4 linked regions of the Homo sapiens genome follow. The protein of the gene in region 2 interacts with the protein of the main gene of each other region in a biochemical or structural test. Each region holds a gene or a part of one and is shown on either strand. Other genes may lie near its edges.

The links. Proteins that work in one complex are often made in the same cells at the same time.
Region 1: the proteins of TMEM178A (region 2) and SIPA1L2 interact in a test that uses a peptide from one of them, tested with the Homo sapiens proteins (one large-scale study listed by IntAct).
Region 3: the proteins of TMEM178A (region 2) and PTPN3 interact in a test that uses a peptide from one of them, tested with the Homo sapiens proteins (one large-scale study listed by IntAct).
Region 4: the proteins of TMEM178A (region 2) and LDB3 interact in a test that uses a peptide from one of them, tested with the Homo sapiens proteins (one large-scale study listed by IntAct).

The regions. Positions count from the first base shown.
Region 1 is NC_000001.11:232,399,546-232,403,133, forward strand, and holds part of SIPA1L2 (signal-induced proliferation-associated 1-like protein 2), read right to left. Parts: intron 2,929-3,588; coding exon 2,847-2,928; intron 1-2,846.
Region 2 is NC_000002.12:39,702,951-39,708,360, forward strand, and holds part of TMEM178A (transmembrane protein 178A isoform 1 precursor), read left to right. Parts: intron 1-1,130; coding exon 1,131-1,244; intron 1,245-4,098; coding exon 4,099-4,236; intron 4,237-5,410. UniProt on the Homo sapiens protein: Acts as a negative regulator of osteoclast differentiation in basal and inflammatory conditions by regulating TNFSF11-induced Ca (2+) fluxes, thereby controlling the induction of NFATC1.
Region 3 is NC_000009.12:109,407,054-109,411,307, forward strand, and holds part of PTPN3 (tyrosine-protein phosphatase non-receptor type 3), read right to left. Parts: intron 3,363-4,254; coding exon 3,176-3,362; intron 3,024-3,175; coding exon 2,946-3,023; intron 1,325-2,945; coding exon 1,268-1,324; intron 1-1,267.
Region 4 is NC_000010.11:86,713,511-86,717,764, reverse strand, and holds part of LDB3 (LIM domain-binding protein 3), read right to left. Parts: intron 1,439-4,254; coding exon 994-1,438; intron 1-993. UniProt on the Homo sapiens protein: May function as an adapter in striated muscle to couple protein kinase C-mediated signaling via its LIM domains to the cytoskeleton.

The DNA of each region.
Region 1 (3,588 bases), on a different chromosome or scaffold from region 2:
AGTTTATATTACCCTCTATCCAAAAAAGGGAGACTACAGGGAGGTTAAAGGTAATACCCTTTTGACAAATGCACAAAACTTTCTAAGTAGAAAATTGGAATTAGCAGAGCTGTTACATATGTTTATAATAAAATATGTACTTAGGTCTTTCATTCCATCAAGCTTTCCTGCTATACTATATTTCCATAATGACCCTTAAAATCTGCTATTAAAAACTGTGTAAAAATAATCAAGACTTTCAGAAGAATCACATCTGGAGTTTCCAACATGTAGCAATAAAAAAATGTATAGCAGCAGTTTCAGTTCCCCCCCTGCTGAAAGGGATGCCTTGCCCTAAATGAATAGAGGGGTCACTGTCAGATTGTAATAATCGGTATTTCTGTAACGGGATCTAACTCAACCACTACAGCCACCACATGCCACCCCCAGCACTGTGCAGGAGCATTGAGTGAGGTGAGTGGACGCCCCCACCCTTGGCATATCTGGTCCTGCCCTCAAGGCTTCCTCGTTTCCTGAGCCCTTCCAAGGCCCTCCTCAATACCACCTGCCTGGTCACTGGCCCAAAAGACACTGGTCCTCAGAGGAGGCCTGAATCAGAGCTGACCACTCACTTTGCTGTAAGGAGCAACTGCAGCCCACCCTGGATAGACTCACTTCACTCTAAGAAGCAGCTGCAGCCCACCCTGGATACTGACTCTCCCCGGACATTCCTCACCACGACTCTCAGTCCCAAGACAGTCTGAGTCCCACAGCTCAGCACATCTCTGCTGCGACTCGGCTGCCCACCTCTCCACATCCCTGCAAACCTTTTATTGTGATCCATGAACTTGGATTCTGCCAAGAAGACCTTGTGCACGCTCAGTCTCTCCTGAAATTCCTTTCGTCTTCGTGCTCTAAGTGAATCCTGGCTCCCTCCCGAGGAGACCGTCCCCAGCAGCTCACTATGGGGGTCGGGCAGGCAGACAGTGCATCCTCTATTGTTCAGGCCAGATCTCCACTACTTCCTACAATTCCAGCTCCTCTAAAAAACGTGCCATTAGGTCATGAGACCTGCTACCCCTCCTGGCTGCAATTATCTACTGTATCCCCAGTTCCAACCATCATTACGGGAAGATTCTAGAACCTGGTTTGCTCTTTTCTCCCCATCCCACTCCTGTCATCTGTGTTGATGATTTCGAATCCACTGAGATATTCCATCTGACACTCTGGCCGTTCAGCCTCTCCATCGCTTTCTCTCAGTGATCTTCAAACCCCACCCTCCTCAACCCCCACTCCCATGACCACATCCTATACCATGCTATTGTCAATGACTGCACCTCTTCCTAAAAGTTTCAAGTTCCTACTTCTTGACCACCACCTCCAGTCTTTTAAAAATAATTTCTCCAGTATCCACTCCTCCAGTAATGATAGACTCCATCAATCTTATCAATCTTACTCTTATTTTCACTGTCCACCAACACCTCCAACCCAGCCATTCCCCAGCAGTGACATTATTTCTCTTCAACCAGCCTGGACTCCAGGTTCTTTGGTTTATTCATGCCCTGTACACGCCCCAGGGTCCTTGTCTCTCTCTCTCTCTCTCGTCTTGATTTCCCGTCTAAACTTTAATATTGGCTAAATTCAACTCTCCAACGGTTCTACACTTGCAGCTGGAGATAGGGTGACCAGCCATCCCAGCTTGCATGGGACTTTGCCGGTTCTAATATGGAAACTTCCACATCCTAGAAAACTTCTCCATCCCGGGCAAACTGGGACAGCTGGTCACCCAAGCTGGGGAAAAAACACACGACCAGGAAAACAGGTATCGCTTTAATTTATGCTCCAAATTCAAACGTGCTTTAGCTTTTTTTGGGCAAGTCTCCTAAACCCGGTTGGTTTACACGCTGTGGTGCACCCATATCCGCTATCCACAAAACTCTTATACTCCCACCACTCTTAGCTCATGACTAGAAAGAAAAGAAACAATCAGAGAAATTTGCCAACATCTCTGTCTGGACCCTGTGTATGTGAATGAACATGTGCATATATGAACACACACATGTGCACACATACTCTGCTCCACTCTGGTAACTATGTATGAGCTGTCCCTACTCCTATCCAAGGCCAGCTCCCTCCTTGTGACTAGATCAGAACTCCACCCACTTGCTCTTCACCCTCATCATAATTTCCCTCCCAACTGAATCCTTTCCTCAGCATTCTCACCAGCTACAATTTCTCCCTTCTTCATAAGCCAAACCAAACCAAACCATCACAACAAAAACCTTCCTGTGATGCCCTCCCGCTTGCTACCGCACCCCATTCCGTTTCCCTGGACAGCCAACTGGCTCTCCAGCACAGGGCTGATGGAACAGAGCTCAGCCAAGTATTTGTGGGATACAGAATTTAATTTCTTTTGAGGACAGACCATGTGCAGGTTGATGTGTACAGCAGAAGTTCTAAGGGCTGTGAAGCTGATTCAAGACAGAGGACAGGACTCATAGAGACCAGGCTTTCTGGCAGCAATGGACTCCTCTGAGGTCATCTCATACAGAGTTGGCGCAACTGATAACTCACTGAACTAAAAAATGCTGGCCCACCATGCTTCTACTACACACTGAAGATTTGCCACACCAAGGGCTCATCCTCATTTACTCATATCCATTGAGATCCCTGCATCCCACAAAATGAAATACATCAGCTGCAGGTCAGCAGATGGAGTGAGACCTCAGGAGCATCTGTTGGTATTTATCATTGGTTTTTGTGTAAGGCAGTTTTCTTTCCTGAGTCTTTTCAATTTATCTGTAGTAGTTATAAGGGGCTGATTTTATAAGAGAAACAGTTCTGATTATGCTCTTCCAATTGATTACCTTCCGAAGGTCGGTCTGGAGTTGTCGAAGAATTAATTCCAGCTGATTGACTTTCCCGGTCAGTGGTGATGGAGAACGCTCCCTAGCAAATAAGGATAGAATTAGAAAGATTCAAGAGAGTCAATCGAGCATTTTTGTTGGTCAAGTTTTCACTCGAAAAAATTATTTCATGTGCTTAGAGCCCAGCAAGCAGATATATTATATTATGTCAGAATGGGAAAGTGTCCATATTGCTGATCTAGTGGAAAGCCCATTCTGGGACTTTACTGATTTAAAAAGAGATGCAGAAACTCTATAGATATACGAGTTGGTAGGAAAACAAAAGATATATTATTTAAGTTGGTTTATCCAATGGAGACAAGGAAGACCCAAATGAAGTCCTGGGAACCAGTCAATTTCCCCAATTTGCCTTTCCCTATGATAACAATATTATGAAGCTCGTTACCAATGTGAACATGCAAGTTAATGAAGTTAATTCCAAGTTCTATATTCAGCTCACATAGAAGTTGGAATTAAGAATGGATGACAGAGGTAAAGAATACACATTTCACGGGGAATGAACATGTCATGAATATAGGGGAAAGAGTGGGGTGTTCCCAACATATTTCAGTGGAGGGCATGAGGCTGGATCAAGGACCAGGTTCTGGGAGGGGCCATGCCCTGGGCTGGTGAGCATGTGCAGCCTGGCAGGTGGAAGGCCAATCGGCGAGTTATCCCTGCATGGTGCTGTTGCAGTAATTCA
Region 2 (5,410 bases):
GAGAAACTCCTTAGGGAAGATGATCCTGTAGGTACATTCACAGGAGGGACTGGGGCTCATGATGCAAATTATGCTCAAATATTAATCTCTTCCCTTCACTATATAATCTTTTTAAAATTTCACCTTTATATGCACTCAGATTCCACCAATTAGAGATTTATTTGCATCTATGAAGATTTTTTTAAATGGCTGGCAGTGTTAAAGGACTAACATTCGCTCATGCCTTTAAAAAAATTAGTTTAATCAGATTGCATTTATCCAAACAACTGGCCAAGATTATTTAAAATGAGAGGAGAACATTTTATAAGTTTTTTTAAATTTTAAGACAGAGTAGATACTTTTCATGAAATTCAGAAGCCTCTAGGAGAAGAGAATAATGGACCCATGTTAATTTATGCAGTAAAACATGGGTGTGTGAGGTTGGTGTGAGGAGGTGGAGAGTGTACTAGATGAATCAATGTGTACACCTGCCCATATCAAAATATTGTGCCTAGGGCTGGCCATACAACCAGATAGGGGAGGAAAATTATTTTCTTTCTTGTTCCTACTTCTAGTATTACCCTTTTTTCTCGAGATCTAGAATTCAGGTCAGTATAACTGTATTAAGGAATGATATCAGCTGCACTAGAGTTAAATAGGTTTTCGAGGTTTGTCTGGAGATATAATCACCACCTAAACCATGTGGAAGGTTATCTTTATGGAAAAATGTCTTCTGGTTTCCAAATAACACACTTCCTAATGAACTTCATGAGGCTACCCTTGAGAGTTTGAGACTGGATCAGATCCAGATGTGTGATTTATCTGTGCTAATTTAAAATTCTAAGCTGATTTTCCCAACCATCTGTGTACTTTTAGGCCATTGCTCCTTAAGGAGTTTTGTGTTTAGGTAAAACAAGCTCCGTATGGGAAAACAATTAGGGGAGTATAGATCCTTATACAATTTAATACATTAAAAAATGAAACCTGATTTTAAACATTATTTTATGTTTTAGGTTTTTATTGCTCTGAATCAAGAGATTCTTATCCCATCTCCCATTCAACCCAGGTTAGGTTACGGTATTCTGCCTCAGGTCTCAGAATTCTGTTACAAATAAGCAGACTCGTAAATCGCGTTTCTTATTTCCTTCAAGGTATTGCGCAGCGATGCACGGCCATCAAGTACCACTTTTCTCAGCCCATCCGCTTGCGAAACATTCCTTTTAATTTAACCAAGACCATACAGCAAGATGAGTGGCACCTGCTTCGTAAGTATTTCCAGGAGAGGTTCAGAGAGGAAATGGTGTCATTCTGAACAAAATTCCCACCACCCCTCTCACATCTGGACAGAAGGATGTTGTTCTTATCCTCTGTGAGCCTCTGGGCCCAATCAGATGTGGTCAGAGACTCAGAGGATCATTTCCCTATGCTGTGGACACAGTTTGCTTAAAAATAAAATGTGTGGAAACCTGGTATAAGGTCTTGTGAGATAGTCTGCCCTGGTGGCATCTGTACACAGCTGCCTACTGAATCTTTTGTTTGCCGAGTTGTTGGGTGTAAGGACCTGCTGTACCCCTTGTCTTGTAAACCAAGGAGATTATACCTTAGGGGCTCTTATTTTTGTTTTGTATATACAATATTTATTTTAGCTACTGTGTTCATCTCCGACCTTTGTATTTCTGCTAAAATACCTTTATGAGTGTATGTCATAATTTTCTCAGAGGGTGTCTACATCTCAATGAAAGGAACTATTCTTTTTCACTGTCAGGAAAATGTGAAACTCTAGAAAGCATCATGCAGTGTGAAACTAAAGAGGGCTGATATTTACCTAAAAACTGTTGATTTAAGCTGCCTGATGATAGATAGCTCCCCGAAACGAAAAACTACTGTGAATTTTTTTGGTCTTTGCCCCCATCAGAGGTTGACATTGTCATTTTCCAATGAAATAAGTAACAAGGACTTCAGGATCTTGTTTGGTGGCCAAAGCCACTGTAGAAAACTAATCAGAGTCTCTCATTCTGTAAGTAAATCTCTCTGCGGATTAAAAGGCTCTGTTCTGAATCTCAAACACATAAATGGAAGCTCTTATGATATTGCCAGAGCAGTGGTCTAATATACATATTATGGCAGGCAACTTTAAGACTTAATCATCTTTCCAGAGAGCCATGTAGTTACTGGCTCAGGTCAGGGGAGAAAAGATCATCATAGGAGCCTGAAAAAGAACCTTAGCTCTTTAATAGTTTGTACCTTGTGATTGCCCAGCAAGGCAGTATTTGAAGATTCTTCTTTTAATCCTTTTTGGAGTTCTCATGGAAAGATGCTTTTAGCAGTCTCATGCATGTCTATTTCTAAGAAAGTCACACTTGGTGATCTGTAGCACATTTACTATATAAGCTTAACATGACTGGTACTAATGCAAATCCCATGTGGATTATATCTGAACCTTGTGCCTTTTCAGAGTCACAGAAAATAGACTATCACTCAAACCATAGGAAATTTGGGAGGCTGTAAGATAATGGTGACTGAACCATACTACATTTCCCCTGCTCAGATGTGGCTGTCTCAAAAACTACTTATACCCTTAACATTAAACTCAGCGTCTTTAAATTATCACTGCTCCTGGCCCCTTATTCATTGGTGTCCACATTTCTTCTTCTAGGCAGAAATACTCTCTTTTAATTTGGATGCTCTGAGTGGGAAATGAGAAATCCCTCTTTAAAAAAGGGATGGTCTCTCTGTGGCTAAGGTGCTAAGAGCAAGACTGGAAGCTACTGTAATCCATCCTCCATGAAGCCGCCCCTAAGCTGCCCAGGAGCCACACAAACACACAATAAAGTGATGGCTGCATGGGCACTTTCACTTTAGCAGAGCAGCCCACACTTCGAACAGTGTGATCTGCACCTTGTCTTGGCCCCATGTGTACACAGGTGTGGATGATCCACGTGCATTTGCCCAGACCTGTTACCTGGCCTTGGGGGCAGCAGATGTATGCTTGGGATGTGTTGTTTTAAGAAGGGTGATTGAAATTTAGCGAACAATTTTTAAAGTTAGTTTTGTTAAAAAAAATCCTTTGAGATGGAGCTGCAAGGTAAATAGAAAAGATTCAAAAGCATTTTTTAAAAAAAGAAGGAAGAAAATAGAAAAAGTAAAATAGCTGGAAGGTAGGCAAGGTGAGTGCTGGTTTAGCAGTTGGAGGCAACTTGTGTCCAGGTACACGTAGTCAGCCTACCTCTTGGTTTTGTCAGGCATGTGGGGAAAGAGCTGGATTTCTGGCTCAGTGATCACAGTTGTGTTTTTGCAATAGACCAAACTAGACAGTTGGGCCACTGTATAGTGGAGATTATGTAGTGGAGACTCATCCTATTGGACTAGTACTTCCTTCACCTGGGTAAATGGATGCCCAGGTTGTGGGATCTATGCTTTAGGGGAGAAGGCATTTCTGAGCAGATGTTTCAGAGGAAAGGGTGTTTATGAGCACATGTATCCTGTGTGCACTTTACACCACTGTTCCACTCACCACAATTGCCTTCGCTTTCTCAAATTGTTTTTGAAAATAGGCAGGAGTAGATGTAAATGAAGAAGTAAATAATTGGCATCTGTGGTGATCAGATAAAACCCTATTTCACAATAGCTTTTTTAGGCTCTTTCTCCAAAGCTAGATTAAGTACAGCCACTACCAGGGTAGTAACCTACATTTCTTTTTTTTCCCCTTTTAAAATTTCAATAGTTTTTGGGGTACAGGTGGTTTTTGGTTAACCTACATTTCTATTGTTCTGTTAAGGCTAACAGATATTTCTCAGACCCACCTCACTCTTTGTTTAAGTCATTTGACATCTGTTACTCAGGTCTATCCTGGGCTTGTCCTCTAGTCTATTCTCCACTTAGTGTGGACTTCTCCACGGACTCAGAGACGGTATAGTCTGACCCTCCATTGGTTACACCCCATCAGTCCTCTTATGGAATACCTGGGAAGAGTATTCCCTATGCCTCCTTGTCCTGTGGGCTCTAAGCCTGTCCATGTAACTTACTAATTTTCACAATGTATACAAAGCCCTAATTCTCTAATTCTTAATGACTTTCCTGAATTCTGATTGTGAATGTCTGTGTCTGTTTTGAGATTAGATTTAAGAAGAATCACTGCTGGCTTCCTCGGCATGGCCGTAGCCGTCCTTCTCTGCGGCTGCATTGTGGCCACAGTCAGTTTCTTCTGGGAGGAGAGCTTGACCCAGCACGTGGCTGGACTCCTGTTCCTCATGACAGGTAGGCTGCATGCCTCAGGCCGTCTGTCCCAGCCAAGGTGAAGGCTGCTCTGCATGCGGCTAGCTAGTGTCGCTTTGTTATCTCCCTGTTAATTTTGTTTTCACTGTTAGAAAAGCAACCAGAAGGTCATTTTGGCTTTGCTGGAAAATACAGAATTTAAGGAAAACAACAGTGTGAGAAATGCATCCTCTATATCCCCATTGTGGCCTGTTAGTAGGTTGGATGGAAGTGTCTTGGGTTTAATCTCTATATGAGCCCAGTCTGTTTTTTTGCTGTACTTTCTTTTTTCTTTTTTGTTTTTTTGAGATGGAGTCTCACTCTGTCACCCAGGCTGGAGTGTAGTGGTGCGATCTTGCCCCACTGCAACCTCTGTCTCCTGGGTTCAAGTGATTCTCCTGCCTCAGCCTCCTGAGTAGCTGGGACTACAGGCATGTGCCACCACACCTGGCTAATTTTTGTATTTTTAGTAGGGTTTCACCATGTTGGCCAGGCTGGTCTCGAACTCCTGACCTCAGGTGATCTGCCTGCCTCAGCCTCCCAAAGTGCTGGGATTACAGGCAAGAGCCACCACACCCCACCTTCTGTTCCTTCTTTCATACTGTGCCCCAAACCCTGGCCTGGACTCTTGGCAAACATGGACCATTGCTTATGAGGTGCCCTCAAAGACAGAGGGGGATAGATCAGCACAACCCATGCCCCGCTGGATGTCAATTCAAAGCATGCTTTAGTGATGGTGTCATTTTTACATACACAACACTCATTCATTTTAGTCCACAGATATCTTTTGAGGACTTACTATGTACGAGGCACTGCTGTGAGTGCTAAAGACACACAATGAATAAGGCAGGCAAAATTCTTGTTCATTTTTATTGTGGAGAGACATAAACAATGATTTGTGGTAGTGATAAAAGCTGTGAAGAAAAGAAACAGGGTGAAACAGGGACTCAGGGAAGATCTTGCTGAGGTGGCGATTTCGCAGCTAATTCGTGAGAAGCAGCCGGTGGTAGGAAGAGCGTAGCAGACTGGGGAAACCGCCAGTGCCAAACCTGAGAGAAGCGGCCAGTGGGGCTGGAGGGAGTGAGGGACAGGATAGTATCACATGAGGTGGGGGAAGTGGGCAGTGGCCAAAGCGTCAGGGTTTTGTTGGTCATGGTGGAGAGCTTGGATTTGAAGC
Region 3 (4,254 bases), on a different chromosome or scaffold from region 2:
AAGCAATGAATTGAACAGCACAGGAAAGAAAGCCTTCTGAATTTACAGAAACTGTAAACAGTAACAAAAGTTAAATGACAAGAGCTTAAGGACTACCTCAGAGTAAAATCCCAACGTGGTTCACTGTAAGGAGGCACAGTGACTCCTACTGCTTTAAAAAAGCAGATGATTAAAAGGTAACTATGGAGCCAGGTGAGGTGGGACACACCTGTGGTCTCAGCGACTTGGGAGGCAGAGGCAGGAGGATCGCTTGAGCCTAGTTTGAGGCTGCAGTGATCATACCACTGCATTCCAGCCTGGGTGACAGAGCAAGAGCGAGACCCTGTCTCTTAAAAAAGAAAAATAGGTTAACTATGGAAAGTGATGAACATGTTAATTTGTTTGACTGCAGTACTATATGTATAACAAGACATCATGTTGTACACCTTGAGTATGCACAATAAAAAAATTAAACGAAAAAATTACTTGATATTATTTTAAAAACAATAAAATAAATTTATTTTATTTTTGAGACAGAGTCTCACTCTGTCGCTCAGGCTGGAGTACAGCGGCGTGATCTCAGCTCACTGCAACCTCTGCCTCCTGGGTTCAAGGAATTCTCCTGCCTCAGCCTCCTGAGTAGCTGGGATCACACCTGTGTGCCACCACACCCAGATAATTTTTGTATTTTTTGTAGAGATGGGTTTCACCCTGTTGGCCAGGCAGGTTGGTCTCAAACTCCTGGCCTCAAGTGATTCACCCTCCTCGGCCTCCCAAAGTGCTGGGATTACAGGTGTGAGCCACTATGCCTGGCCTAAAAACAATAAAATAAATTTGAAAGAAAAACAAAGCAAATGCTCTTCTTAGGAGGCCTACACAGATGACAAAAGGGGCACTGGTGGAAAGATGGTGAGAAGAGGCACAGGGCCCACGTGCCCACTTAGAGTGAGCAGAACAGCAGACTGCCTAAGTTTCCTTCTCTTGAAAAGGACTTCTCAAAATTGAATGCACACTAACCACTCAAGGCTCTTGTTAAAAATGCAGATTCCGGTTCAGCAGGCCTAAGCTGAGGCCAGAGATGCTGCATTTCTAATGAGGTCCCAGGTAACATGGGTGCTATGGCTTCAAAGACCACACTGAGCCGCAAGGTTATAGAAAACATGGTGATGTATATCTAAGCACATTCTTTGCTCTGGCAAAAAAAGAAACAGGACTCAGAAACAGAAACCTGTTAGAATTAGGGGGAAACAAACAAACACGAGGAATAACATGGAATGTATTTACTTACAGGTGACTCTGGGTTTATCCTTGATACCACAAGAGGCATCTTTTGATCCACTCCTCCCTGTAAACATTTTAAAATAAAAACAAAACAAAGTTTTTTAAGTTAAACAAACAAACAAACAAAAAAACGAGTAGCTCACAGCATCAACAACATGGAGGTACCAATAAATGTGAGTCTTTGGTACAGGGAGGCTTCAAACTTCACTATGACTGATTCGAATCACACGTCATTTCAGAAATATGGAACAAATTCCTGACCCCTCTGGATCCAGCGGGCTGACCAGGACTCTGTTCAGAAGCCTCCCTCTGCCATCCCCACAGTCCATGAACTAACAGATACACTCAGAGAGAAGCTCCTCCTTAAAAACGCAGATGCCCCCAGAGAGGGACTCCACAGCATGTCTTCGAGTGCTGCTAGAACAAACCTGCACGTTGTGCACATGTACCCTAGAACTTATAATAATTAAAAAAAAAAAAAAAATATATATATATATATATATATGGGCTTTATATATATATATGGGCTTTAATATATATATATATGGGCTTTATATATATATATATAGGGGCTTTCAGCAGAGGCGAGCGAGGCCTGGGAAGGGGGCACACCCTGTGAGCGCATCTGGCCTGTGAGCGCTGGTCCTCAACACAGCTGCTGGGGCAGATGAGGCTGTGCATGATGGCAGCTGGGGGGTAGGCGACCACCTGCCCTCACTTTGTCCTAGAGTAGGGATGAGTAAACGTTTTCTGTAAAGGGCCAGAGAGGCTTTGTGGGAGTGAGGGCTCTGATTCAACTGCTCAACTCTGCAGTCATTAACCCACCAGTAAACAAATGGCTGTGGCTGTTACCAAAAAAACTAGTTACAGAAACAGATGGGATTTGGCCTGTGGGTTTAGTTTGCAGATCCTGCTTAAAGGTGCCTGGAGGAGAGTGGTGGCCCTGCAGGTTGAACTTGAATTGTTTTTCTCTTATCAGCTTTAGCAATGCTGAGGGGTTCTCTTAATAGCATTCCTGAAGTGGGTAGATCTGTTTGCCAACTGTGTGCCCTCATTTCTGGGAACCTCAGTATTCATTTGCAAAATGGGTTTAAAAATACTGACCTTACCACTTGTTATCAGAACTTAAGAAGGTGCTATGAATCTAGTGGATAGCCAATGCCAGGCACAGAGCAGGCACTTGGCCTTCGGCAGCTGTTAAGGCCACATTAAAAAAAACCTCTCAATTCTAGGCTGGGTGCGGTGGTTCACGCCTGTAATCCCGGCACTTTGGGAGGCCAAAGTGAGTAGATTGCCAGGTGTTTGAGACCAGCTTGGACAACATGGTGAAACCCCATCTCTACAAAAAATATGAAAAAAATTAGCTGGGTATGGTGGTGCATCCCTATAGTCCCAGCTGAGGTGGGAGGATCACCTGAGCCTGGGGAGGTCAGCGCTGCAGTGAGCTGCGATCGTGCCACTGCACTCTAGGTTTGGGCGATAAAGTGAGTTTTTAAAAAAAAACAAAAAAAACCCCAAATATCTCAAACCAAACAAAAACAAAAAAAACCCCCAACTCTCAATTCTGAGGGTTGAACCAACTTCCTTATGTAGCTCAGGAATGCAGCACATTTGTAATGCAAATTAAAAACTCATTGAAAGATTGCTTCCCAGCACAAAACTTCCTTTATAAATACACAACATACCTTAAGATTAAATCCAAATTTTCCATCTTCATCTGGTGTGATACGGATCAAGACTAAGTAGCTGTCACCATTATCATTCTGGAAAACGGTTTGAAAGTGGTCATTTGCATCACATCTCTCTCCAGCAGTTGGTGATAAGATATTTTCATTTAGTTAGAGCTACTCAGCTGCCCACAAGAGGCCGGGAAGCCCTGGGTGTGTGGATCACCCGGCTGCCTGCGCTCGCTCACCTTGTCACAGTAGTACTGGCTGGCGTCCTCGGTGGAGCCCCCTTTGGTCACCCTGTGGAAGTCATCTAAGAGCTGCTGATCAACGCCGTCAGGTGAGCAGGAGCCTGGAGCATTTGAAGATGGAGACACAGAACTGGATGACTTCTGGGTCAGGTAGCTTTGTGCCGGATTGTTCTCGGATAAACTCCTTCATCATGGGGAAGGAGGAGATATTAATAACTGGGTTAATATTTTATTAGAGCAAACACTACTGACTGTAGGGGCCTGGCAGCTGGGGGCTGTATGTTTCCCTGGAACCTCAGCTGCATAGGTTGTCAGCGGGATTTGAGTACACCCAGGGCCCACTGACCACCCCTGACCGCATCTGGCCTAGACACTGTCACATGGTTTTGGGGAAAAGGGATAGGAGGCAGGGTGGATCTGGAAACTGCTGAAAACTTTGCTCCCTTCCCCGCTGCTTTAGAAGGGTGACAGGGAAATGTGTCCAGCTCCTCTGGTGGTTTCATTACTGAACCAGGCTCTGCCAGGCAAGCTCATGCAGATGCACAGCCCATCCCTTCTGAAAGCTTTTTTCCTTCTGTCTCACTTCTGCGGATGGTTCTGCTTCATAGGACTCTTGCCTCCTCAAAGGAAACAGGACTGTTGTTGTTGTGCGTTCAGGAGAATTTATATTATTCCTAGTTGGCATGATTTGCCTGTGACATCCATGAACTGCCACGCTGAGATCTTGTTACATTTTCCTCTATCGAATATAGTTTCTTCTGTATCGTGGAGCTGCACTGTCTAGTATGGTAGCCACTAGTTATATGTGGCTACTTAAATTTAAATAAATTAAGACAAGAAACCAGCCATACTTCACATGCTCACTAGCCATATGCGGCCAGTGGCTCCCGTATGAGACAGTGCAGTCAGAGAACATTTCACCACGGCAGGAAGTCCTGCTGGACAGCGCTGTCTTAGAGAGTTACAGATGATGAAAACGGAACAGAACTTTGTGGTCATTTGTTCTAACTCCCAGTTCACAGATGAAGAAGCTGAGGTCAGGAGAGGCTGAGTAACTTGCCCAGGGTCACATGGCT
Region 4 (4,254 bases), on a different chromosome or scaffold from region 2:
GAAGCAACTCAAACATCTACCAATAGGGGACTGGGTAAACATATTATAGAATTCAGTTGACCACTGATAATGATAGTAAGAAATGCAATAATGATGATGCTGATGGCTAACATTTATTAAGTGATTACTCTGTGTCAGGCTCTATTCAAGAAGACTTTTGCATTTATTAACTTGCTTAATTCTCACAACAATCCTACGCACTAGGTACTATTATAATACCCATTTTTAGATAGGGGAATTGAGGCACACAGAGTTTGAACAACTTGTTTAAGGCCATAGGGCTAGTAAGTGGTAGACCAGGATACAAACTTGTATTGTCTAGTTCCAGGTTAGCAGTCAGAACAGTGGGACTATGAAGACATTTTTTTATATTCTAATTTTTACTTTTCTGTGTTTTCCAATTCTTCACTAATGAGTATGTATTACTTTAGTTTTAAATAAAAGTGTATTTTTCACGTATATAAGCTCACACCACACATGCACACAAACATACTGTATTCAAACAACAGCACCCATGGTCCATGGCTTCTAAGTATGAAATCACTTGTTTTCATTTTAGTCTGGCAGATGCCCACCAACCCCCTGAGCAGCCCAGGCCTGTCTGTGGAAAGACCCAGAAACAACCCTAAAGGAAAACTGGGTCAAAACCAACACTGTCTAACAAAATGCCCTGTAAACCTACTGACAAGCCTGGTGATTCCCAGACCTCAACCTTAGCCCAAGGGGGAGTTCCTGGCACCAGGCATCCTGCTGGAGCTTCACCCACATACCTCATGCCATTCCTCCCAGCTCCCTGGGAGAGTGGGTGTCACACAGGTATGGCAGCTAAGGCTCAGAGAGGTAAGACCAGATGGCAAGCCAGAAGGACCCGAGGCTTTCTCCCTACACCTGCCTCCTACCCCCATCTCTCCCAACCAGGGCTCAGACTGTGGGCAAGCACCCCACACACACGCCCTTCCAGTGCCCCAGTGCAGGGGCACAGCTGGACCATACCGGATGACATTGTTGCAGTGACCGCAGAGTGGAGTCCGGCTGCTGGCTGGGAATCGCTCAGCCCTCTGGACGGTCCCCCTGGCAAGTGGTGGCACCTGAGGACCCGCTGGGGTGTAGGCTGGGCCTCCCCGGGGCAGGGTCTGCTTGCTGATGGAGGTGGTGCTCTTGCCCGGGGCAAACTTCTGGGAGAAGCTATCATCTGTCACCCAGGGTGGACGGCTGGCAGGCTCCGCAGGGCCCCCGCTGTAGGCCACCGAGGGTGCAGGGTTATAGTTGGGGGCAGGTGAGGGGGTATAGGCTGGTGCTGGGGATGGAGTGTAGGTGGGGACAGGTGAGGGGGTGTAGGCAGGGGCAGGGGAGGGGGTGTAGGCAGGGGCAGGGGAGGGGGTGTAGGGAGTGGGACTGTAATTGGCCCCTGGGGACGGGCTGTAGGTAGATGCAGGCACTGCAAAAGCCAAAAAAAACCCAAAGAAAGGTGTGTCAGGAATTCATTCTTCCCAGTTCCCCTCACTCCTAGCCAGAGAAATGCAAAAGGTGACTTTAACATTAGAGCAGTACAATTTCAGTTTTTTTGGGAGACTTGTTCCTGAACTTCTTGATGGCCCAGATTTGAATTCTCAGCAGGGTGTTCACAGAGCTAGGGAGCAAGCACAGCAGAACCCTCGACAGGGCTGGAAAAGGGACATGGCTATAAATATTTGCAGCTGTGCAGGGTGGGGCTCCGCCAGGCCTTGACTGCCCAAGGCCTGCATAAGACGCAGAGTGGGGGTGGGGGTACCTGGGCGGGGAGAGGTGGGAGTGGGTCACCTCGCCTTTGACTGCAAGATGCTTTCAGTTGCACTCTGACCAGTGATTTGACATCTGAAATACCTCCCTTGGCATAAGTTTGCTGAACCTGGACCTAGGTCAGCCCTCAGGACAAAACAGGTGACCTGGTAGCTGGGTTTTCAGGTTCAGGTTTCAGGTTTAGCTACAATTACTTTCTTGAAAAACAGCTTGGCTTGATTTGTATTGGGGGGCAATTCCGTCTTGGTTTGATTAGGGTGGGGGATCTTGAAGGAGTCATTCAGAGGGTGCTGGGCAGAGACTCTAGGGTGACACAGCCTAGAAGTAGCTGCTCACTTGGCCCGTGGCTGCCTTGGGGGACCCCTGTACTCCCACATCGCTTTGGTGGAAGCTGAGAGTGTGTCTGAGTGACTGTCTAAAGATTGCCCAGGCAGTCAGAGCACAGGGAAGAGAATGCACCACCTCACTTCTATCACCCCCTCCTCCAGCTCCCTGAGAGCAGAAAAACGTTTTGGGCTCACAGCACAGAAAAAGCATTGCCACTGCTTACCCACAGCCCTCTCCCGCCTGGGCCCTCAACACCTAGCCAGGGCAGACCCAGCTGCACCCTGCAGGCAAGGTCCAGCTGGCTTCCTCTTCCAGTGAGTGAGGTTCCAGAAGCCTCACCACATTTCAGTCTGCTCCTCAGCAAAGAGGCCTCATTCCCCCAACCCTAGGAAGCATGTCAGCACAGCCTCCCTCCCCATTCCTGAGCTCAGTATGGGCAGGATGGACTGCATTGAGGCAGTCCCTGCACCCACACCCCGCCTCTGCCCCCCACCCCATACTCCAGCCTCAACCTGGAGAGGAAGGTTTTCCTTAGGGCCTAAGACCCTGGCCCCATCTCCAGTCTCTCTTTCCCACCTGGTTCCCCTGGACCGCCTGGGGCAGCCTGTGGCTCCCACTCTGCACCTTCCACTCCCAGGTGACCCACCCTTCAGAGCTGGGTGAGCTGGAAATCCCTGTGCTGGGGGTGAGTAGGGACCAGGTAGATAGGATCCATCCATGTTGTTGAAGGAAGAAGAGATAAAACCCTCCACAGCCCTGCCCTGGAGCCATCCTGCCAGTGAGGCCTTCAAAAGATAATACCGGTTGGGCATGGTGGCTCACGCCTGTAATCCCAGCACTTTGGGAGGCTGAGGTGGGCAGATCATGAGGTCAGGAGATCGAGACCATCCTGGCTAATGTGGTGAAACCCCATCTCTACTAAAAAAATACAAAAAATTAGCTGGGTGTGGTGGCGGGTGCCTGTAGTCCCAGCTACTCAGGAGGCTGAGGCAGGAGAATGGCGTGAACCCAGGAGGCGGAGCTTGCAGTGACCCGAGATCGTACCACTGCACTCCAGCCTGGGCAACAGAGCAAGACTCCATCTCAAAAAAAAAAAAAAAAAAAAGATAATACCTTCTCCATAAGGAATCTTCCTCCCCTTTAGGGGTAACGAGGCACATAGCATCTGTCATCTGAATCGGTCTTCACATTATTCCCTCTTTACACTTGAGGTCACTGAGGCTCAGACAGAGCTAGTAAGTGGGAATACATCTCCAAATCCATTCATTCTATCATCCCAAGCTGCCTCTGTAAAGAATATGAGTCCAATTTCTAGAAAATCTCAGTGCAACATGTCAGGGAGGAGTCATTTTCAACATGAAGGAGACCCCCTGCTGTGGAGTCTTGATAGCATAGCCAAGAGCCCTGGCTGCAGGATCCAGCTCTACTACCTCCTGGTTTTGTGTCCTTGGGCAAGTTCCTTAACCTCTCTGGGCCTCAATTTCTTCATCTAAAACTGGCAATACTGATTCTTAGTATCTCACAAGGTTATTATGAGGATTAAGGGAAGGTAAGAAATATAAAGAGCGTAGCCTAGTACCTGGCATAGTGTGTCACTAAATGTGAGTGAGGATGGCAAGGATGGGGGCAACCTGGGTGTCAGGGTCAGATGTACTGTCAGCCTGTCTCATGGCCTGCTGCTCACCTAGGGAAGCCCAGCCCAGTTAGACTGGTAGCGCCTAGGGTTGGGGGAGAGGAGGGAAGGGAAATGGAACATCCTGAAGTCAGATAACCTGAGACTGAGGTCTATTCAGTGGTGGTGGAATGCCTGACACCCTGCCTGCCCCACAGGGCATGCTGGGGACCTGCTGGGGTGACATAGTGAATGGATTTTGTAAATGTGTACAGCCCAAATTTGAGGTATTGTCACCCTCCCTAACAACTTTGCAGAGAATATCAAAATGCTGGGGGAAGAAGTGATTCCAGGAACACCACCAGGGACAGAGAGCAGGGAGAGGTGATCTAGCACAACTTCAGAGCAGCTTCATCCCTCTGTTATATATAAGGGGGTTCTGTGCAACATTTTCTTTCCTTTCTTTGTGAAGTGCAATTCTCTGCTAAAAAAGATTAAGATTGGCTGGGCGCGGTGGCTCACGCCTGTAATCCCAG